4 linked regions of the Homo sapiens genome follow. The protein of the gene in region 1 purifies or fractionates together with the protein of each later gene. This does not show direct contact. Each region holds a gene or a part of one and is shown on either strand. Other genes may lie near its edges. The genes, in order: PRMT8, HNRNPUL2, CHTOP and HNRNPU.

Evidence for each region.
Region 2: the proteins of PRMT8 (region 1) and HNRNPUL2 purify together in Homo sapiens (affinity purification with mass spectrometry; 4 studies listed by BioGRID and IntAct, with this or other methods). This does not show direct contact.
Region 3: the proteins of PRMT8 (region 1) and CHTOP purify together in Homo sapiens (affinity purification with mass spectrometry; 4 studies listed by BioGRID and IntAct, with this or other methods). This does not show direct contact.
Region 4: the proteins of PRMT8 (region 1) and HNRNPU purify together in Homo sapiens (affinity purification with mass spectrometry; 5 studies listed by BioGRID and IntAct, with this or other methods). This does not show direct contact.

The regions. Positions count from the first base shown.
Region 1 is NC_000012.12:3,486,412-3,494,215, reverse strand, and holds the start of PRMT8 (protein arginine N-methyltransferase 8), read right to left. Parts: upstream 3,014-7,804; 5' UTR 2,591-3,013; coding exon 2,516-2,590; intron 1,485-2,515; exon of another isoform or gene 1,397-1,484; intron 1-1,396. UniProt on the Homo sapiens protein: S-adenosyl-L-methionine-dependent and membrane-associated arginine methyltransferase that can both catalyze the formation of omega-N monomethylarginine (MMA) and asymmetrical dimethylarginine (aDMA) in proteins such as NIFK, myelin basic protein, histone H4, H2A and H2A/H2B dimer.
Region 2 is NC_000011.10:62,717,424-62,724,466, reverse strand, and holds part of HNRNPUL2 (heterogeneous nuclear ribonucleoprotein U-like protein 2), read left to right. Parts: intron 1-40; coding exon 41-176; intron 177-476; coding exon 477-553; intron 554-740; coding exon 741-880; intron 881-1,563; coding exon 1,564-1,654; intron 1,655-1,753; coding exon 1,754-1,866; intron 1,867-2,086; coding exon 2,087-2,350; intron 2,351-2,524; coding exon 2,525-2,647; intron 2,648-3,043; coding exon 3,044-3,172; intron 3,173-4,275; coding exon 4,276-4,444; intron 4,445-7,043.
Region 3 is NC_000001.11:153,644,031-153,646,814, forward strand, and holds the end of CHTOP (chromatin target of PRMT1 protein), read left to right. Parts: intron 1-1,033; coding exon 1,034-1,239; 3' UTR 1,240-2,276; downstream 2,277-2,784. UniProt on the Homo sapiens protein: Plays an important role in the ligand-dependent activation of estrogen receptor target genes. May play a role in the silencing of fetal globin genes.
Region 4 is NC_000001.11:244,849,754-244,854,543, reverse strand, and holds the end of HNRNPU (heterogeneous nuclear ribonucleoprotein U), read left to right. Parts: intron 1-40; coding exon 41-94; 3' UTR 95-4,247; downstream 4,248-4,790. UniProt on the Homo sapiens protein: DNA- and RNA-binding protein involved in several cellular processes such as nuclear chromatin organization, telomere-length regulation, transcription, mRNA alternative splicing and stability, Xist-mediated transcriptional silencing and mitotic cell progression.

The sequences.
Region 1 (7,804 bases):
CTTGGGTACCTAGCTTTCCTGGTACAGAGCCGGTGCTTGACAAAGAGGTGTGGAATTCAGAACTAGGACCACTACCACGCTCCCCACCACCCACTGACACACGTGGAGGCGTGCTCCTGCCGCTCTCATCTACCATAAATGCAGGCAAGTCCACAACACCCCACTTTTGGAAGTGCTGCTCTAGTCCTGGCTTATTCCAAAAACAGCCAGTTCCTGGAGGGAAACCAAGTGATTGTCACGCTGCCTGGATGCCTCCGCTAGGCACGTTTGACCAAGTCTGGGTTCTACCCCTTCTCCAGGGAAGTTGCTAAGAACCGATCCGCCAACCTGGCTCACACCCCTCCAAGGAGCCCCAGCTGGGTCTGTCCCTCCCCGCACCGCCTTGGTGCCCCGCACGCGACGTGGTTTTTTGTTTGTTTGTTTTGTTGTTGTTCGCAGGAGCCCGGCCGCCCCTACTGCTGTTTTCATTGATGCCTTCAGCAGAGCTGGCATGTGCAACTGCTGAGAAGGGGGAGCGCGGAGCGGCGGGGGAAGCAAGTAAAAATAGACTGGCGCGCGGCGCTCTGCCTGCTCCGGACGCCTTTAACCCTCGCCGAGGCTGGGAGAGCGCAGCAGCCGCCGCTGCACACTGCGGAACCTGGCAGGGGTCTGCACCCAGACCCCGCGCGGCAGCGGGGGTAGGAGGCAAAGGGAACCGCAAAAACTTTTTCTTAGAAAAATGAGCCGGGGGTGGGGTGAGGTGGAAATGCAGGGAGGAAGCGCCTTCTCGCTTCCAGGGCTCCAGCCACCTGGCAGAGACCGCTACGTGCCCGCTCGCTCCACACTTCACAGAAGCGCGGCCTTGAAGCCCTGGGCTATTTTTAGAAACCCTTTCGGCGGGTGGGCGATCAGAGGGCGGAGGGTGAGGGGAATGGTAAGGATGGCTTTCTGCTGGGAGGCTAGCCGCCTCGCACTACACATCATTCCGAATGTCTGCTCTCAGGTGGGGGCTGGGGAAGAGGAAGTGGTGAGGGGACGGCGGGCACGCAGGCTTTGCCCTAACTCAAGGAGACAGCATTCGCTACTGAATGCCCCGCTGCGTTCAAGTCCCGGAGCGTGTTTGTTTTGAAATTGACAATTGTCAGATGCATGCTGCTTCTAGTCTCTCAGAGAAGGGGGATTTATAAAGCTTTGCTGCCTACGCCGTGGGGTAGGGGTTTTAGCGCAGAGTTAAGAACTCGAGGGAAGAAGACCAGGAAGGGTCTCTCTACCTTTTTGCATTCCGGCAAGACAGAGGGACAATCCCCGCGCCACACCCCCATCCCCGCCCCCCGCTGCATATGGGTAACCATATGTGAAATGTGCGGCAGCCCCACCAGACACCCAGCTATTAATAGAGCCTGGGAGTTTGCTCTCTGTGTCTTTTTCCTGCCACTGAGTAAGGGATGATCTTCACACACATGCCCCACTCCGCCCCCATCTCGGCGCACCGTTTCTCCAGGAAGGTAAGGGGGCTGCCCACGCTGATCCCCTTCGTGACTACAGGTGCCCAGAGCCTACGGAATAGTCCGGTTGTTGTAATGACAGCGGGGTCAGAGGGAGGCGAGGGATCACAGCCTCGAGTCTCGGGACGCAAAGCCCAGCAGGGCTCTCTGCGGCTCAGGGCCAGCTGGAGAGTAGAGAAAAAGGCTGCCGAAGGCGGGGGCCGAGAACACAATTTGCGGAGCTAGAGCGACCTCCTCAAAAGCCCTTGCGGGACGGGTGGCTGCAGACCCATTTCTCACTGCAGCCGGCGGCGCGCAGCCCCCACAGTCCGCGCAGGCTCGGCTGCTGCAGGGGCGGACGCTGTCCCTGGTGCTGAAGGTGGCCGCGGCCCGTGTGCCCTGCCGGGTTTAGCTACCCAGAGGCGGCTCTGATATCTGAGGATTGCAGACTTCTCTCTGGCCCAGATCTGGGCCGGAGGGTCTGTAGGAGGTGCCCGAGTCCTCCTGCCGGCTCGGCCCCCGCGGCCGGGGGCTCTCCGCGCGGCTGCGGGGACGGAGAGCTCGGGAACCGACTCGAGCTTGAAGGGTAAAGCTGAGGCAGCGGCAGGAGACGGTCAAGGCACTGCAGGGGGCAGACCTGGCCCCAGGATTACCCACCCCAGCTCTGCACAAAGCCGGGACCCGGGAGCCCTCACGGAGCCCAGAGGAGAGGGCAGGGGAGCGCGGCTGCCCGGGGTTTGGGACTTGGGGGCGGGAGAAGGGAGCAGCGGGTGGCAGGAGAGGGTGATGGGGTGAGAGTGACTGTTTTGCATTTTCAAGAGGGAGGGGACCTGAGACATGAACTTCCCCCCCACCCCCCACCAACACACACACACACACACACACACACACACACACACACACACACACACACACACACAGGAGGAGGCCGGCAGAAGCGAGCGGGATGAAACTGGGGAAAGTTTGGCACTCGGCGCTGAGCGGCGGCGGCGGCGCGGTGGTCCGGGTGGGCGGCGGGGTCTCCGAGAGCCCCTGCTCGCTCGCCTCCTTACCTCGGTGCTCTCGGCCGCGTTCTCCGCCATTTTCCTCCTCAGGAGCAGGCAGCGGGAGGAGTGTTTCATGCCCATAAGAGCCGGCAAGGGTTTGGTGATACCGAGATAGTAGAGGAGGAGAGAGAGCTGGTGTCGCTTTAAAAGAGAGAGCGAGAGGATGGGAGAAAAAAAAAAATCCAACCCAGCCCCTCAGCTGGAGCGTCGGCCGGCACAGTCAGCCACAGCGGAGTCTGTTCTGCAGTCTCCACTTTCTTTTATTTTCCTCCCTTCTCATCTGCTCCGGATTCCTTCACACGGTTTCAAGTTCTTCTCGTGCCCCCGACCCCCTCCCCGCCCCTCTCCACCCGCGCTGCGGGCTAAGCTCGAGGGAAGCAGCCCCGAAGCCTCCGCGGCGGCGGCGGCGGCGGTCGCGGATCCTCTCCAGGCTGCTCGCAAAGTCCGGCCGGCCGGAGGCAGCCGCCAACTCCTCTCAACTTCTGCCGATCCGCTGGGCGAAGCAACACGCTTCCTGCGCGTCTCTCCTAGGGGCTGAGCCGGGTGAGTGGGGGCGGGGTAGGAGGTTCGCTGGAGCCGGCGGCGGCTGGGCGCAGACCGAGGGCCCCCAGCGCCCCCGGGCCCGCCCCCTCCCCTAGTCTCCGAGGGTCTCGGCCGCCTCCACTCCCTGGCGCTGCACACAACTTACGTGGAGGCCAGGCCCGCGCGGGGGGCCCAGAGAAAGCCGGCGCCGGGCGAGGCTCTTGCAGGTTCTCAGACCCGGTGCGCGTGCTCCCACCTAGGGCGAGGTCCGGGCGAGACCGGGCCACAGTTAACTCGCACCCTCCCCACCCCGGCCCACCCCAGCTCTCCCGCTCCTCTGCCAGTTCCTGGATCCTTCCTCGGCGAATTACGATTTGGGGAACGAAGGGGTGGGTGTCTGGATGGGGGAGGGTCCTTAACTCCTTCAACTCTAGGGGTAAGTGTGGTGTCATTCTTTATCCTTTTCTCTCTCTCTCTCTCTCTCTCTCTCTCTCTCTCTCTCTCTCTCTTTGTACCCAAAGCCCTTGGGACTCCAAGCCCCTTTCAGGCTGAGAGGGAGGGGCAAAGGTGGCGGCCAGAGTGGCTTGGGAAAGAGGGTGGGAGAAAGTCAAATGCGAGACTGCAGTGCCCCCCCCCCCACTCCAGTCTTCCCTGGCAGCCCCCTGCCCACGCATTTCTCTTCTCCCTCCTCACCCTTCCCCCACCATCGCCAGATTTTGAAGTCCCTTTTATGGGAGAGAGGGAGGATGTCACGTACCCGTCAGGATTCTCTTGATCCTTTTTTAAGGGAGTTTGGGCGGCAGCAGGGGGTGTGAATTTTTATACAATGCATTCCTGTCTTCACTTTGAGAGCTTCTTTTTCTCTGTTTTACTGGCCATCTGTCGGGCAGTGGGAGATAGAACAAAAGCGGGGGACCCCATTCTGCCTCTCCCTTTGCAACAGGACACTCAGGCTGACTCCTTAAAACAGCTGTACTTTTAAGCTTTCAACCTACGAGTCAAGGACTGAGACCTATAAGATGCTCCCTGAGCACCCGGCTGTCTTCACTTCATCTCTGTACTTGTTTGGGGAGGTCCCTCCCAAATGCCCTATTTGCTTTTTATCATCACCTTCGATAACTGGGAAGTGTGAGCCTGACTGTCCTCAACTAACCCCAGAGTCCATTGAAGAAAAGGTCTAGAATCATTCTCAGTAGGAAACATGCCTCCATCATCTGGTCCTCGGGCAAAGAGAGGATACATTGCACTAAGTAGAGGTGAGAAGTGAGGGATAGAGACAGGAGAGGATGAAGAATGAGAAGGATGAAAATGTAGCAAGAGGCTTGAGTGTGTGTGTGTGTGTGTGCGCGCGTGTGTGTGTGTGTGTGTGTGTGTGTGAAAACTTGAATAAAAAGATGACCTTAACCTCCTTAACCTTTTCCCTTCTCAGAACACAGACCTGGGTTAGAGTTGGGGGTGAGTGAGCAGAATCCTTGACAACACCCAGTCGTTCCTCCCGTTCTGTCAACATGCAGAAAGTGGTAGGAAAATAAATGTGAATCTGGAGAATGACTTTTATCCTATTGAATTCCCTTTTCTCTAGGCATCTTCTCAGAGACAAAAGATTCTGAGAGACATCTAATTCCCTACCAAAAGTGTCTCAGTGTTTGTGCAATCAAAGGAAATCAGAAAAGAAATGATCCTCACCGCTCTGTGGTCCAATCCTCTCATTTTACAAATAAGGACCCCAAGATTGGAGAGAGGAGGACATTTGCCCATGGTCCATCAGCAAGCAGAGGACCCAGCTCCCCAGCCTCCTGACTTTCAGTCCGACACTCTGCCCCCACCCAACACTGCTTCTGCTTGTGCATGCCTTCTGTGACTAACCAGGGAGGAGGGGAGCTGAAACAAGCTCCCACCGAAATAGGCTGCTGCCTGTGCGTGATTATGTTGCTATGAGAACCTCAGTGGGTGTGTTTCCTCCTTTCGCTGTTGAAATCTTTTGCTTTGCTTGGCTTCTCCCCAAGCACAGACACGTCTCCCTTTGGAATGGGGAGTGGAGAGGCTGAGATGGAGAGCTATATTTTCATGGCAAGAGTTTTCTGTCCCAACCCATCCAACCCAGAGCCAGCCTGGGGCTGTGAGTGAGGAGCCTATGCCACTAGGGTGGTTCCATAAAGGCTGGAGTACAGGAGTGAACTGTTTTGAAAGTGGATACTCTAGCCCCCTGTTGAGCTGTCTTAGAACAAAGAGGTGCTGTTCCTGCTATGTAACCACCTAAGAACAAATTCACAAGCAAGCTAATTATTACTTTAAGAGACGAAGTTTGGGGTGATTTGTTATACACCAAGAGATGACCTGAACATTCACATCTTATGATTGTGAAAAGTGCCTAGCACATAGTAGGTACTTTGTAGAACTATTTTCTCAGCATCCCTACCATTCCTGTGAATTCAGTCTTTCTCTATCTCTTTTGCAAAAATATATTAGCATAGTCTTTCACCAGGTTAATTAGTTTAGTCATCCCACAAATAATTTACTAGGCATCTCTTAAATGCCCAGCTCATTAATAGGCACTAGCCTTAACAAGAGGCAACAAAACATATTGAATTGACCATTGATGAGCTCTTAATGTAGTCATGTTGGATGCTTTTACAGGTACAGATCTTCTGTAGAACTCTTAAGGAGATTTTCATGGGAGGCAAGAAAACATGTGGGATGATAAGGGGTTCAGAGAGTTCACTAGTGTGTGAGTCAAATGGGTAGTTTGAAACAATAGACCCTACCAGGTAAAGAGGTTCTGAAGACGCATTTTATTTATGTAATTTTTCTTATACTAGATCTTCAACACAACAAAAGTAGAGTGCTTAGAACAATGCCTATCTCATGGCAAGTGCACAAATATTATGTCAACATTCGCTAGGCCCTGTCCTAGGCACATGAGTTAAATTTTATAGAACACTTGCTAAGTCTTATAGAACACTTACTATATGCCAGAGATTATTCTTGACCTACCTGTGTTCTCATGTAGCCCGTTCAACAGCTTTTTGAGGTAGATACAATTATCCCCATATAACAGATGAGAAAACAAAAACACAAGGAATTGCCCAAGTGGTAGAGGCAAGATTCAAATCTAAGATACCTGATTCCATAGCATAAACCTCAAGAAGTTGACCAGGTTCAGGGAGCAAGACAGTGGTTCTCAACCTTGGCTATACAGTGGAATCATCTGGAGAGCTTTAAAAATACCAGTGCTTTAGTTCTACCCCCAGAGAGTATGATTTAGTGAGGTTTGGGCATCAGGATTCTTTAAGCCTCTAATTCTAAGGGACAGTGATGATTGGAGGACAACTGGACAAGAATATCTGGAGACAAAAACACCTGCAGAGGAAGAAGATCCCTAAGTTACAGAAGATCCAAAACAAGAACCCCACACTGTAAGGAGGTCTATCTCTAACTCACAGGTTCTTGAGAGGCCTGGACTGGAGGAAAGCTGTGTTGATGGTTGGGATGAGACCCTTGGGGAGGGTTACAATTACAAAGGTTATCCAGCTTTGTGAGATGCTGCAGAAGAAGTGAGTTTCCTATTACTGGAAAGGCTCAGTTAGATTAATTGTTGGCGTAAATGATGTAGAGGCCCCACAAACGCCAGAAGGTTGAGCAAGCCCTCTGAGGTTCCACCTGCCTTGTGCTGGGACTCTGTAATTCTGTCTCCTGTCAACTCTGAGCCCATGCTGGAACCCCAGAAGGTGAAGACTGTACCATACTTCATCTCCAGGGGCCAACCAACACTTCCTTTTGCTGCTGCCCAAAATCCCAGGCCCCTAGAATCAGGAAGCAGCATTTTAACTGCGGACCATGCTGCCTGGGAAATCTCAGGCTCTAGCTTGTTCCAATGGTCGTTGCTGCTGAAAGGGGCGACATATTATGTGGTTTTCTCCTCCTCCTCCCAGGGGACCTCACACATGGCCAGGGTTCACATATGGCCACAGCACACTGCAGTGAATCCACGACTCCTCGAGAATCAGGCCAGAGCCATGATCCATCACCACCTCATGGCAGCTACCCCAGCAGTGTTCTTAGTGTCTTCTGGGCCAGATGGGAGCCAAGCCAAGGCTGCAGCAGCCAGCTACCTGGCTGAGCCTCCAGGCAGCCCCACACCTGGGCCGTTCTCCTACACAAAAGCCTCTGTGGTCCTATTCCTCCCTAACCCAAGGCCCAATATTTTTAAACTGCATTCCAAAGAACAACTCGCTGAGTGCCACCAATACCTGCAAAGCAATATGAGGTGGGATTTTTCTTTTGCCATTAAAACCAGAATGTTATTTCTTCCTTGCTCTGATAATGTCTGATTAAATCAATTCACTGCGGTTTTGTGCTGGATATGATACTATTTGCTTTAACAATATCTGGGAGGCATTTTCTTAGTATAATACTTCTGCATTTATAGCTTAATCCTGCTGTTTTATTCTAAAAAGTTGAATACTCTTGTTACCTACCTTTCTCTAAGGATGAGAAAGACCCAAAAGATTCTGTTGTGCTGCCACAACAGAATTAGCTTTTTCTACTGGGTGGACGTTGTATACTCTACTCCTTTCCTCCTTTTTAAATCTTTCATTAAGGCTCACCTTTTTATGGGAAATCTCTCTGGAATCCCTGAAAGCCAACTGGAAGCCATTCAGTCTTTCCAGTGCAATAACTTAATACATATTTTTTTCTGTTAACTTTATATGACTATGGGCCAAGCAAGTGCTAAGTATTCTGGACTAAAAGGTGAAGAGACTTATCTCTGCA
Region 2 (7,043 bases), on another chromosome or scaffold:
AGTATGAAAACTGCTGATTTTCTTTCCCTCGTTTTTGTAGGAGATGACCAGGATAGTGAAAAGTCAAAACCAGCAGGCTCAGATGGTGAGCGGCGGGGGGTAAAGAGACAGCGGGATGAGAAGGATGAACATGGCCGAGCTTACTATGAATTCCGAGAGGAGGCTTACCACAGCCGGTGAGGGAAACAGTCCCTTTCGTTGAAGGGAGTGTCTGCTCTGATTTTGGTATACCTGGTATTGACTGGAGAGACTGGAAGGAGGGTGGATTCAAAATGGAATAGGTTTTTATAGGCATGAGTTTTAGATTGCATCTACCATGGAAACTCCTATTGCCCTTTCTCATTTATTGGAAAAAGCTGTCTGCTGGGATTTGATATTCACTGACAGTTTAAAATGGACATAATGTCATACACACACACCCCTCAAAGAAGAGGGCTTTGTTTACATTGTGTTTCTTTTCTATCTTACATATATAGCTCAAAGTCTCCACTGCCTCCTGAAGAAGAGGCAAAAGATGAGGAGGAGGATCAAACTCTTGTGAACCTGGACACGTGTATGTATAAGGCAGACAGACTGTGGTTTTTAACTAATCTCCTAAAAGTGATTTTGGAGATTAAAACTTCATAGCCTATAAATTCTATGAGACTTTGTATCCACTACAACAACTGGTATACTTATGCTCTGTTGGCGGCTTACAAGTATTGGACATTGGAGTAAACTGATTGCTTCTTTCTTTACAGATACCTCGGATCTGCATTTTCAAGTGAGCAAAGACCGCTATGGAGGGCAGCCACTTTTCTCAGAGAAGTTCCCCACCCTTTGGTCTGGGGCAAGGAGTACTTACGGAGTGACAAAGGGAAAAGTCTGCTTTGAGGCAAAGGTAGCTCATTAAGACCATTCATTCATTCATTCATTTATTACTGGATGCTTACGGTTCTTAGAGGGGGAAAAGAAGATTATTATCTCTTTTTTTTTGAGATGGAGTTTCGCTCTTGTTACCCAGGCTGGAGTCCAGTGGCACCATCTCGGCTCACCACAGCCTCTGCCTCCTGGGTTGAAGCGATTCTCCTGCCTCAGCCTCCCGAGGAGCTGGGATTACAGGCATGCGCCACCACACCTGGCTAATTTTGTATTCTTAGTAGAGATGGGGTTTCTCCATGTTGGTCGGGCTGGTCTTGAACTCCCGACCTCAGGTGATCCGCCCGTCTTGGCCTCCCAAAGTGCTGGGATTACAGGCATGAGCTACCGCACCTGGCTGGGGAAGAAATATTTTTTTAAAAAGACCGTTCATTTATTCATTAAGCTACTACCTATGTATACTGGACTTCTGTCCAATCAGGCTTTTATTAGTGCAGGTAGGTAAAAGCACTGTGCTTTAACAAGAACCTTAGTTTCAGTAACCAAGAAATTGATCCCTGTGGCTTTAAGTTCAGTGATTGTTATTCTGATGTTGAGTTGAGGTAAATGTCGTTTTCAGTTTGTATAAAAATCTTGTCCTTCGAACTCAGAGTTTGCTACTCAGTTGGTCACAATATCTAATAGTTCCCTTTCTGACTTGGCCAGGTAACCCAGAATCTCCCAATGAAAGAAGGCTGCACAGAGGTCTCTCTCCTTCGAGTTGGGTGGTCTGTTGATTTTTCCCGTCCACAGCTTGGTAAAGTTATTTCTTTAAGTTCCTCATTAGTGTTTACTACCATATTGCTTACTCTATGGGAAGTCCGGTTGTAGGTAACTAATTTGTTGACTGTTCTAGGTGAAGATGAATTCTCTTACGGTTTCGATGGACGAGGACTCAAGGCAGAAAATGGACAATTTGAGGAATTTGGCCAGACTTTTGGGGAGAATGATGTTATTGGCTGCTTTGCTGTAAGTGCTCCTGAAAGTTGTGGGTTATAACAAGGAGCGGATAGAGGGCACTGGGAATTCACTTGTGCTTCCCATCAACTGCTGGCTTTTATGCATGTGATGTGTGTGGCTCGCTTAGTTACTTTGTGCAGCAGTCTGTGTGAAAAAAGAATAAATTGTAAAGTTTAATCAACCCAAAGCCTCGTCAGCCAATAAGTGCTCTTGTCCCTTGTCATTGTAGAATTTTGAGACTGAAGAAGTAGAACTTTCCTTCTCCAAGAATGGAGAAGACCTAGGTGTGGCATTCTGGATCAGCAAGGATTCCCTGGCAGACCGGGCCCTTCTACCCCATGTCCTCTGCAAAAATTGTGTTGTAGAATTAAACTTCGGTCAGAAGGAGGAGCCCTTCTTCCCACCACCAGAAGAGTTTGTGTTCATTCATGCTGTGCCTGTTGAGGAGCGTGTACGCACTGCAGTCCCTCCCAAGACCATAGAGGAATGTGAGGTATGCCAAACAGTATACGAACACTGAGGTTGTATGCTTTGCAGAGGTGGGTGCGTATGCTCTCCAGGGTCTCAGAGCGTTACCAAACAGGAATGGGAGGATGTTCTTAAATTGGTTTTGATAAACATGACCCTCATTTATTTTTCATTATATTTCTGGTTCTGTTTTTTGCAGGTGATTCTGATGGTGGGACTACCCGGATCTGGAAAGACCCAGTGGGCACTGAAATATGCAAAAGAAAACCCTGAGAAAAGATACAATGTCCTGGGAGCTGAGACTGTGCTCAATCAAATGAGGGTAAGTTGCTGTTGGGGATTTGTCGGATACAGTATTTGGAGACTCTTATAACCTATCTTTAATGGAGAATTAGTCTCAAGTGTCTGAGAACAAGGGTCCCAGAAATAGAGAAATGAGATTTTTCTCTATGCGTTTTAGGTGGATTGATTTTTTTTTTCTTTGCTGTGTTGTCAAATTTCTGAAAGCAGATGAGATCTGAAATACATCCAGGTTAAGACTAGATAGAAATGACTACTGCAGGAAATGGACAACATTCACAGCACTGAAGAATGGGAATAGAGTGATATCATAGATTCAGTATTTGAAGAGGTGACATTTACCAATAACTCTTGGGCTTTAACTTGCAATATAACTTGTGTTTTGTTTTTTTTTTTCACTTCCTCTCAAACTAATCAGATGAAGGGTCTCGAGGAGCCAGAGATGGACCCCAAAAGCCGAGACCTTTTAGTTCAGCAAGCCTCCCAGTGCCTTAGTAAGCTGGTCCAGATTGCTTCCCGGACAAAGAGGAACTTTATTCTTGATCAGGTATTAATCTGATAAAATTGCCTAGAGTCAAGGTGGGATGTGTATATAAAGAGAGACTGAATTAAGGAGCAGAGTCAGCTTACCTAATTATGACCATCTGGTTGTGTGTTATGGTTGCAATGTTTTTTGAACTCAGAGGTACCCCTAATTAGTGTTTTTACTTGAAAATATATGGACCCAGGCTATAAAACATGTAATAAAGACAATGGAAAGAGTTGGAACTCATTTGAATTCCTGGCTCCACCACATTCTGGTTTGTGATCTTGGATAAGTCCCTTATCCTTTCTGAACCTCAGTTTCCCTGATGAGCAAAACAGGATAATACCTGTCATGTAGTTTGAAAAGTTAAAGAAGATCATGTGTATTGACCCTTTATCTCGTGTCTAAGTTGTCAAAGATACTGAGTCTTTTTTTTTTTTTTTTTTTTTTTTGAGACCGAGTCTCGCTCTGTCGCCCAGGCTGGAGTGCAGTGGCGCTATCTCGGCTCACTGCAAGCTCAGCCTCGTAGGTTCATGCTATTTTCCTGCCTCAGCCTCCCGAGTAGCTGGGACTACAGGTGCCCGCCACCATGCCTGGCTAATTTTTTGTATTTTTAGTAGAGACAGGGTTTCATCGTGTTAGCCAGGATGCTCTTGATCTCCTGACCTCATGATCTACCTGCCTCAGCCTCCCAAAGTGCTGGGATAACAGGATTATAGGCGTGAGCTGTCACGCCCGGCCTTTTTTTTTTTTTTTTTTTTTTTTTTTTGAGATGGAATCTTGCTCAGCCGCCACCCAGGCTGGAGTACAGTGGCGTGATCTCAGCCCACTGCAACCACCATCTCCTGGGTTCAAGCGATTCTTCCGTCTCAGCCTCCCAAATAGCTGGGATTACAGCACCCACCATCATGCCGAGTTAATTTTTGTATTTTAGTATAGATGAGGTTTCACCATGTTGGCCAGGCTGGTCTTGAACTCCTGACCTGAGATGATCTGCCCACCTCGGCCTCCCAAAGTGCTAGGATTACAGGCGTGAGCCACCGTGCCCAGCTGATACTGATTCTTTTGGTTAAATCTGAGTGATAATTTTCTTCCTAAACATCAGTTATTCCTCCTGTTCTTAGTGTAATGTGTACAATTCTGGCCAACGGCGGAAGCTATTGCTGTTCAAGACCTTCTCTCGGAAAGTGGTGGTGGTTGTCCCTAATGAGGAAGATTGGAAGAAGAGGCTGGAGTTGAGGAAGGAAGTAGAGGGAGATGATGTGCCTGAATCTATAATGCTGGAGATGAAAGGTGGGTGTCTTAGTCCATTTTCTGCTGCTATAACAGAATACCATAGACTTCATAATTTGTAAGTAATAGAGGTTTATTTCCCTCATTCTGGAGGCTAGGAAGTCCAAGAGCATAGCATTAGCATCTGGTGAGGTCCTTCTTGCTGCATCATTCCATGTCAGGAGGGCAAAAGGCAAGAGGGCACATGTGAGAGAACTTGCTTTTATAACAAAGCCACTTTCACAATAATGGCATTAATCTATTCATGAGGATGGAATCCTCATGACCAAATCACATTAAAAGTCCCACCCTCTCAATACTGCTCATTGGGGATTAAGTATTCAACACTTGTACTTTGGTGGGACATAACTCAAACCATAGCAGTGGGCTAAAATTGTACAAGTTAAAGAGATCTTATCCCTGGTCAGTGCACACCTTATTGAGGTCTCTTAGCAACTGGAGTGACACTCTACATCTAAAATGTAAATCTGAAGAGGAACTTAATGGTCGTGAGCACTTGTAGATAAATGAATGAACAGAGAGAAGCAATAATTTTGACTCATTGTTTTCTTGGTTTGTTTTGGTTTGGTTTTGAGACAGAGTCTCACCCTGTTGCCCAGCCTGGAGTGCAGTGGTGTGATCTCAGCTCACTGCAACGTCCACCTCCTGGGTTCAAGTGATCCTCTTGCTTCAGCCTCCCAAGTAGCTGAGATTACAAGCATGTGCCACCATGCCTAGCTAATTTTTGTATTTTTAGTAGAGATGGGGTTTCGCCATATTGCCCAGGCTGGTCTTGGAACTCCTGACTTCAGGTGATTTGCCCGCCTTGGTCTCCTAAAGTGCTTAGATTATAGGCATACGCCGCTGTGCCTAGCCGCCTTGGCTCGTTTTGAAAAAGATACAGAAAGGGAAATAGTGAGCCAGGCGCGGTGGCTGACGCCTGTAATCCCAGCACTTTGGGAGGTTGAGGTGGGTGGATTACAAGGTCAGGAGCTCACAACCAGCCTGGCCAAGATGGTGAAACCCTGTCTCTACTAAAAATACAAAAAAAATTAGTCGGGCATGGTGGTGGGCGCTTGTAATCACAGCTACTCGGGAGGCTGAGGCAGAGAATTGCTTGAACCTAGGTGGCAGAGTTTGCGGTGAGCTGGGATTGTGCCACTGCACTCCAGCCTGGACAACAGAGTGAGAAGACTCGGTCTCAAAAAAAAAAAAGTGACCGTAGGGTAATTTAAACTCAAAGGATCAAGGGAGAGGCTTCTGTGAATCAGTTATTTGTTAAGTAAATATTTCTGGTACATCTACTGTTTGTCTACATTTCTTATTCTGCTTTTTTTTTTTTTTTTTTTAAAGACAGAGTCTTGCCCTTGTCGCCCAGGTTGGAGTACAGTGGCGCGATCTCGGCTCACTGCAACCTCCGCCTCCCGGGTTCAAGCGATTCTCCTGCCTCAGCCTCTTGAGTAGCTGGGATTACAGGTGCCCGCCCAGCTAATTTTTGTACTTTTAGTAGAGACAGGGTTTCGCCATGTTGGTCAGGCTGGTCTCGAACTCCTGACCTCAGGTGATCTGCCCGCCTCGGCCTCCCAAAGTGCTGGGATTACAGGTGTGTGCCACTGCGCCTGGCCGCAGGGAGAGATTATTATGGTTCAGATTAAAATATGGCAGTTGGAGTGAATGATCTCATTGGTATAACTTGATTTCTGGTATCACGTTATGTTTGTGTTTTGTTTGTTAATTTGGCTGAAGTCTGTAATGCAATACATAAGACAGAGAGTAATGTCTACATAAGAAATATTAATATTTTGATTGATCCTCCTATTCCCTTAAAACGTGATTTTTTTTCCCATTGCTGCCTTTAGTTCCTGACATCCCACCGAGTCTAGCAACTGCTTGCTCTTCAAATACTGATAATCCCCAGGCATGGGAACTGGTTTGCATATCTATGAGCCAGATCCTCAGAGTTTACTGAGAATGAACTATGCCAGTCCATAACTCTTACTTAGGCACTCAGAGAAATGTAGCTCAGTTTTATAAAATTGAGGGCCAACTGGATTCATCTAAGAATCATGAGAGCCCCATTGAACTGAATTTCCACTGGGACTCAGCTTCTGAAGTTGACGTCCAGAGACTGGCAGATGTGCTGGCCTATCACGGACAGGTGGTAAATGAGAGCCCTTGTACTCTTGTCTTCTCTTCTCCTTGTATAGATGAGCAGATGCCTTTAGGCTTGGGTCAGTTTCTCATTGAGTCTCTCTTCTGTCAGCGAGGCCAGAGTGCAGTGGCACTCAGCCTCCCGAGTAGCTGGGATAACAGGCACCTGCCACCATGCCTGGCTAATTGTTGTATTTTTAGTAGAGACAGGGTTTCACCATGTTGGCCAGGCTGGTCTCGAACTCCTGACCTCAAGCAGTCCGCCTGCCTTGGCCTCCCAAAATGCTGGGATTACAGGCGTGAGCCACCATGCCCGGCCATCTCTGAGTCTCTTTTTAAAATGTTATTTCTTAGCATCTTATCTGACCAACACCAGAACTTTCTCAGTTACTTTTAGCCTCTGGTTACCTGCTTCTGTCCTGATGAGAAACTTTAACCCAGTTCACTCCTAATTTATTATAGATCACTT
Region 3 (2,784 bases), on another chromosome or scaffold:
TAAATCTCATGGGAGCCTTCTGGTTTAGAGCTTAGTGGAAAACTCCCAACACCTGTCCAGAAAAAAAACACTATTGAAGCCCCTGTGTATATTTGCTTTGGTTCTCTTAAAAGGTGTCTTGGGTCTTCCATAACTTATGACCTTGAAGTTGCCAAGGAATAATAACTGTTAGGAAAGAAAAGTTGATAACCAAGGGCTTGTTTTCTTCTCTCCCATTATATGATACTTACTGAGTGAAGTGCAAGCTAGTTTGGGTTTCAGGATGAAATAACATGTTTCCAAATTATCTTGACTTGGATCCTGAGAGACATCACGAGGGTGGGAGAGACTAAAATAGCTTTTCAAAAAGCTGAGTTTGTTTTGTTAACTGAATTCACACTGCTTCTCAGATAACCACAATTGTCAGTTGTCATAAGGTAACTAGAATTAAAGGTAGAAATAGCTAGGACAACTCAAAATATTTTTTCAAATCTCCCCTACATTGTTCCTGTGTCAGAAAAACTCAGTCTCCTGACACATGAGGTCAGCTAGCTCATTAGACTTGATAAGTTTAAGGACAGGTGAGATGACTTTCCAGAAGGGTCTCCAATAAACTTAATTTGAAAACTGTCTTGTCTTCACACCCCTGATGCTCTGTGCTCTTGTTACCACCTCCCTATCTTACCAAATGGGGTTATCTGTCATGTATTTTAATTATGAACTTAGTGAATCTCAAATGTTAGGTAATTTTATCTTAGGATTGATTAAGGTTTTTTAAAATTATAGTTGCCAGTTAATTATTTTCCTTTATTGATAGAATAAAATTTGTTAAAATAGCATTTAGAGATGATCATGTGATAGAGGATTCATTATGTGTGCTTTCCATGTGTTGCTTTCTACCCATTGTGTTTCCTTTTTTTCCAGATTTCTCCTCTTTGCCCTGCCCTTCAGCTTTTCTCAGCTAGGCCCCACTGCTCTAAGGGGCATTTACTACAGCACCTATTAAACTTACTTGTAACTGTCTCTTTTTTTTTTTTTTTCCCCTTTGGGCCAGGTCGGGGTATGATAGGTCGGGGAAGAGGGGGCTTTGGAGGCCGAGGCCGAGGCCGTGGACGAGGGAGAGGTGCCCTTGCTCGCCCTGTATTGACCAAGGAGCAGCTGGACAACCAATTGGATGCATATATGTCGAAAACAAAAGGACACCTGGATGCTGAGTTGGATGCCTACATGGCGCAGACAGATCCCGAAACCAATGATTGAAGCCTGCCCATCCTCCCATGAGAGACTCTTGTTAGTCAACACATCTGTAAATAACCTTGAGATAACAGATGAGAAGAAATCTGATTGATGCTGGATGGACCTATCACAATAGGCTGTGGACTTACTTGCCACCAGCTTGTGCATTTAGTGTGTTCCTTTTACTTTTTGATACTGTGTTGTATGAAACCCTTTTGTCCTTTGATTTGGTTTTTTGTTTTTGTTTTTTTAGGGGGGAGGGGGGGTTTCCCCTCCTTTGCCCAGACTTCTCTTTGAACACAAATGCATTAGCCTTGTGGCTAGAACACCCTCTTCCTACCTCTGTCTCCCCTCACTTGTCATATGCTCTGACATGCTAACATTTCTTTTGTTCATCCCTGTTGCCCCCACAGAAACATCCCAGAAAAACCGGTCAGTGTTCCTTCCTCCCTGATCCTTAGGTTTCTGAAATAGGGTTCTGTTACATCCTCTTCGATAGCCTGTTTAAAATGTTTAGAAGGTCTGGAGCTCAAAAATGCGTTCTTCCACATTGATAATTTAGTAAACTGAGAACATTGACATCACTACAGGGCAGCATAAGAGGTTGCTTACATGTGGTAGCAGCTCTGGTTTGATTCAAGTTGCTACCATGTACATTGACAGCACATATACCATAACCAGCGTGTTGGGTTGAATTGCACTTTCTACCTTTGTATGAGATTTACAGACTTTCCTTCTGGGTTTGTATCATGACCAGAGGGGTACTATAGGGTTGGTTTATACTGCAATATAGAGGATCAGAAGCCATTTGATTTGGTAGGTGTGTCAGAAGGGAGAATGATGGCAGACGAACTGCTGGAAGAGGTCAGAAGATAGCCATGCTAAAATGCAATTATATCCTCATGTTTATCCCAAACTAATCTTGGACTTTTCCACTCATTAGCTTTGTTTTGCCCTTGTTTCCCTTGAAGGTTTAAGTTCAACCATATTCTGTCAACTGTTCAGTTTCAGTGGAATCTTGTATTTCTGGTTCATTATAACAAACTGTTCGCTTAAATCCACCCAGGACTCTCTTTATTTGAGGTGCCTCAAAATGCCATGGCTACTTTAATGATGTTTTTTTTTTTTTTTCTTGTGACCGAGTCTCGCTCCTGTCACCAGGCTGGAGTGCAGTGGCGCGATCTTGGCTCTGCAACCTCCAACTCTCTGGTTCAAGCGATTCTCCTGCCTCAGCCTCCCGGGTGGCTGTGACTACAGACATGTGCCACCACACCCAGCTAATTTTTGTATTTTTAGTAGAGATGGGGTTTCACCATGTTGGCCAGGATGGTCTTGATCTCTTGACTTGGTGATCCACCCGCTTCAGCCTCCCAAAATGCAGGGATTACAGGCGTGACCCACTTTCAGCCTCCCAAAGTGCAGGGATTACAGGCGTGACCCACTGCACCCAGCCACTTTAATGATGTCTTGATATACCCCTTGTATGGTTGAGAGTTTCTTTCTTCTTACTTGTGTTAAAATTCTGGAGAGCCTGTGGCTTTGAGCAGAAAGTGAAGAATTTGACTTCCT
Region 4 (4,790 bases), on another chromosome or scaffold:
ATTGATGTTTTTTCTTTAAAAACAAAATTTTCTCTTACAGCAATTCTGGGGTCAGAAGCCATGGAGTCAGCATTATCACCAAGGATATTATTGAATACCCAAATAAAACGAACTGATACATATTTCTCCAAAACCTTCACAAGAAGTCGACTGTTTTCTTTAGTAGGCTAACTTTTTAAACATTCCACAAGAGGAAGTGCCTGCGGGTTCCTTTTTTAGAAGCTTTGTGGGTTGATTTTTTTTCTTTTCTTTTTTGTACATTTTTAATTGCAGTTTAAAAGTGAATCGTAAGAGAACCTCAGCATTGTGCACGATAAGAGAATGTGTCAGTATTTCAGGGTTCTACATTTTATCTGTAAAATGTGACTTTTTTTTTTTTTTATCACAACAGAAGTAAAATGTTGCTTTGTACCTGGTGTCTTTTATTAAGAATTTACTCCCCCCATTTCTCACAGAGAATAACAGTCGGGAGTCATTGTCACAATATAATAGAAATGTTAGCAACCAGATTCATGTAAGGACTAAGTGGTCCTCATGAATTGCATTAAGACTCTGTACTGCTCATATTACACTCCATCCTCTCTGTAGTTTGCTGGGTAGTGGAGGGGGTAAGCTAAATCATAGTTTCTGACAATAACTGGGAAGGTTTTTTCTTAAAATAACAATGGAATTGGTATAATTGGGATTGAAAACTAAAACTTGGAACTAAGATAGAGAAGATGGAGTGTATGTAGAAGGGCTGTTAAAAATGTAAAACTTGGTTGCATTATTTGTGGAGGCTCAAACTTGTGAAGGTTAATACCATAATTTTTCCATTTGTTCTGCATTTTGATTCTGAAAAGAAAGCTGGCTTTGCCCATTTCTTATTAAAAAAACTTGTTGTAAATCCAGTTGTCTAATGGGATCTATATGAAGTTAGCCATGTCTGTATGCCCTTCTCCCACAAAATACTGTATAACTAGTGTGCTTGTAGTAGTTAACTCCACCATCTTTGTAAGCTAATGAAATTGTGAGTCACCCATTTATATCTTAATTTTTAATCATGTCAGTTCTTGAATGGGTATCTCCTTAGCCTGCTGATTTCTTTTTCTTTCTAAAGAAAGTGGGTGGAGAAATTAATTTAGACGTTTGTTTGCAATAAAAAGAATTCATTTTACTCTTGTTTTGGGATTCTCGCCATCAAGGTTCAAAATCCCTTTATATAACTCCCAAGAGGAGAAATTTATTAAGTGTGTGCTTTCTGGACAGCTTATTCTTTACTCTGCATAGAACATTTAGGTTTTAAAAACTTAAATGTATACTGACAATTGATACATAATTATGAAGTAAAGTTGAATTCTTCCCTTCCCCTCCCCCCCAGACAACTTTTAACATATTTAATGAGGGGAAAAGGTACTGGCTGGGAGAAGTTAACACTGAGTTTATCATCTTTACAGAATGCTAATGCTGTCCTCAACTGATTATTTTATATACATATATATGATACATGAAACTCTGGGATCAGATGCTTTTAGAAGCCATCATGCAAGCCAGTCATTGATGTCACTGCTACACAACACTGCTAACTTGACTGTAGCTATGTAATAACATTAGATCCCCTAATTGTAATTATATTGGGTTTGCACAGAACACTTTAATCTTCCCCTCACCAATGTGAAGTGAGGAATCAGGAGTCAAACTGTAGAACTAAAATTTGACTTCAGTCTAGCGTTTCCTTGGTGTTTTTAGGTTGCTTTGGTAAGTTTAGGTTTGCTATATTTCTGATTGCTTAGAATTTTGTTTTAGCCCTTTAAAATCAGATCATAAATATGAATTCATACTTCTAAGGAATTTTCTTGCTATAAGCTGGAGTTTAGGTGATGTATAGGTTCAGTTGAGACATTTTTGGAACAGGCAAATCCTTAGTTAACATAAGATATTTAACAGTTGAAGATAGTGTCATGGATTTTTATCTTTTTTAGCAAGTAATGCTAAGAACCACTGGCCTGAGCTACTACTCTTCAGTATACATTATTAGGATTGCATAGACTTACTAGAGGAACAGTTTCAGGTTTTGATGCTAATCAGTGTTGTGTCCTAAAGTTGTCCTTTGTGCCTTTAAAAAGTTTTGGATATATCTTCTAGTTTAAAATTGCTTATTAAGGAATTCATTTTATAATTGCAGTGGGAAAGTAATGGTCAAGTAACACTAGGTAGACTATCATGCCTGTTTAGCCCAGAGAATTTGGGGGGAGAGAGAATAGATAAAAATGGCACCCAGAAAAATGTTAAAATCTTTAGTCAAGACTAGAATTAATACAATTGTCTACACTTGTATGGCAGAAATAACCTTATAAAGTGTTTAAGGAATTCAGAGAAGGGAATGTACCAAATAAGCAACAGGGAGAAAATTAGGTAAGAAGTAAGATACGAACGAGAAACCTGATTTATTGCTCATCCTTCCCTTGCCTCCCTAATGGCAAGCAAAACTCTGAACATCTGAAAAGGATGTAGTTCTGGACAAATCCTGACTACCCAGAGGAAACTCACTGTGAGATTGCTGTTGATTTGAAGGGTGCTTTCACTAAGGTTATATTTTAAAGTAGAATAACACATGCTGAGTGTAAACTGGCTTTGGATTGGTCAGCTGCAGTAGTACAAAAACAGCATAGAATTTGAGAAAACTAAAACTGCTATGAGATAGCTATGAGAAAACTAAAACTGCTATGAGATAGAAATGATGTAAAATTATGTGGAAAGTTTTCCCTCATATACTCACATACAGCCTTTGAAGGGCTCTGGCTCTGACCGGTTGATGGCCTTGAGCGAGATGAAATCATGAAATTGAGTCAAATCAATTTGACATTGAAATGACAAGAGGAAACTCTTAAATACATAAAAACAAGCTCTCATTTGCCTAGGATAGATACTGTCTTAAAAATAAAGACTGAACCTAGATGTTCTGAGCACTAGCAACAAGGTATTTTAACAAGTTTAAAGGAATTCTCTGAAAAAGTTATAAAATTATTCTAGGAAACATAACCATAATAGTGTTTTAAGGGACTTTCACCTGGGGATTTTATATTCATGAACAGAGTGTATTCTGTATTTAAAATGTCTCATTTGTGGGAATTGGATGACATGTTTTTTGATAAATTTATTCACAATATAAATTGACTTTTTATTCTAGGACCATGTGAATAATGGGTTCCATTGCACAAATACAAATATTTTAATAGCTTCTTAGGCAGTGGTGTAGACATCTTGGATATAAATAATTGTAGATCTTGTATATTTGATTTTTAAAAAACTAGAATAAACAGAGAGGCATAAACATATCTTAGAGTCCAAGTGGTAGTGTTTAGCATTGGATATAATAAATGGATGTTTTACAAAGTGTTTCCATAATTCTCTTCCTATACATAAATGTCTTGTTTTCAAAAGTGGATGGAACTTGGCTGGGTGTGGTGGCTCACGCCTGTAATCCTAGCACTTTGGGAGGCCAAGGCGGGAGGATCACTTGAGCTCAGGAGTTTGAGACCATCCTGGGCAACATAGTGAGACCTGGTCTCTTGAAAAAAAAAAAGTGGATGGAACTTGTAGCAGAGAATTTTATCTACTTCTCAACCTGCTTCAGAATACCCATTTGAGATGTTCCCCTGGAAAGATGAACACAATACTGCATCTGAAGCCATTTCTTCCCACCTAACATTCTTAAAATGATTAGAGTCTAAACTTTGTCATTCATTCCTAATTCTGGAGCTCTGAGGTTGAGGTGTTCAGAGTTTGGTGAATAATTGGGTTTAAGTTTTAACATTTTAGTAATAATAAAAGCAAACACATACATGTTAAGGCCTGACAATAGGTTGCAATACCCATGCATTGGGACTCATACCCAGCATAAATGGTGAGGGACTGAACATTAGTGCTTTGAGCAAGAATTGGTTAACTACCTGAGATCTCTAAAACAGTAATTTGAATTACTAATACATAAACCACAAGTCTCTTCGAATTGTTAATTGCCTAAATTTACCCTAAAACTTAGTTAACGCTGCAGTGCCTTTATTAAAGCTTTTTTTTGGGGGGGGGTGTGGGCACAGCTACTCCATAACTTTAAATTTTAAAGCATGAAGGTGATCTAGCTAGTGTTAGTGCTTGAGTTGGTAGTTACATAGGCTGCTCTTGAATCGTCCTGTTTTCTTTGCCTAGTATTAGCACCACAGGTACATATTTGTAAAATAAGCATTAAAAGTACTTTGTCCAGCTAACTCATGTTGGAGTGACCTTTGTCTTACTAACCTTTGTTACTAAACTTGTTAATTAGAATAAGCCCTTGAGAATTTGGAAGTGAGCTATACTACTAATGTAGTATATATCTCTTGAGTGTGTTGGAGTAGATGAAAAACCAGGGGTCCCCAAGGGTATATTTTTGAAATTGAACAGAAACAATTCATCTTAATATTTAGTTTTCATTATGTTTAGCTTAATATGTGTGCTAGTTTATTTGGCGTCACACTTATGTCAATCTCAAGTCATGCAGAAATAGCACAGTCTCAGAAAAGAGGTTAGGTGGGAAATAGATGATATGCTTACATTATTGAGCAGGACTATGCTTTCACATCCTAACCAATTGACTAAAAATATAAATGATTGAAGTAATTTTCATTAGTTGCCCCAGGAGTCTTTAATAATAGTTTTAAGGGATAGTAGATTGGACATAGATAGATGGGTTATTCATAATGGATATTCATAATGGATATTCATAATGTTAACCTAGAATTATTCAGAAAATATAACACCTATGTAGTAGA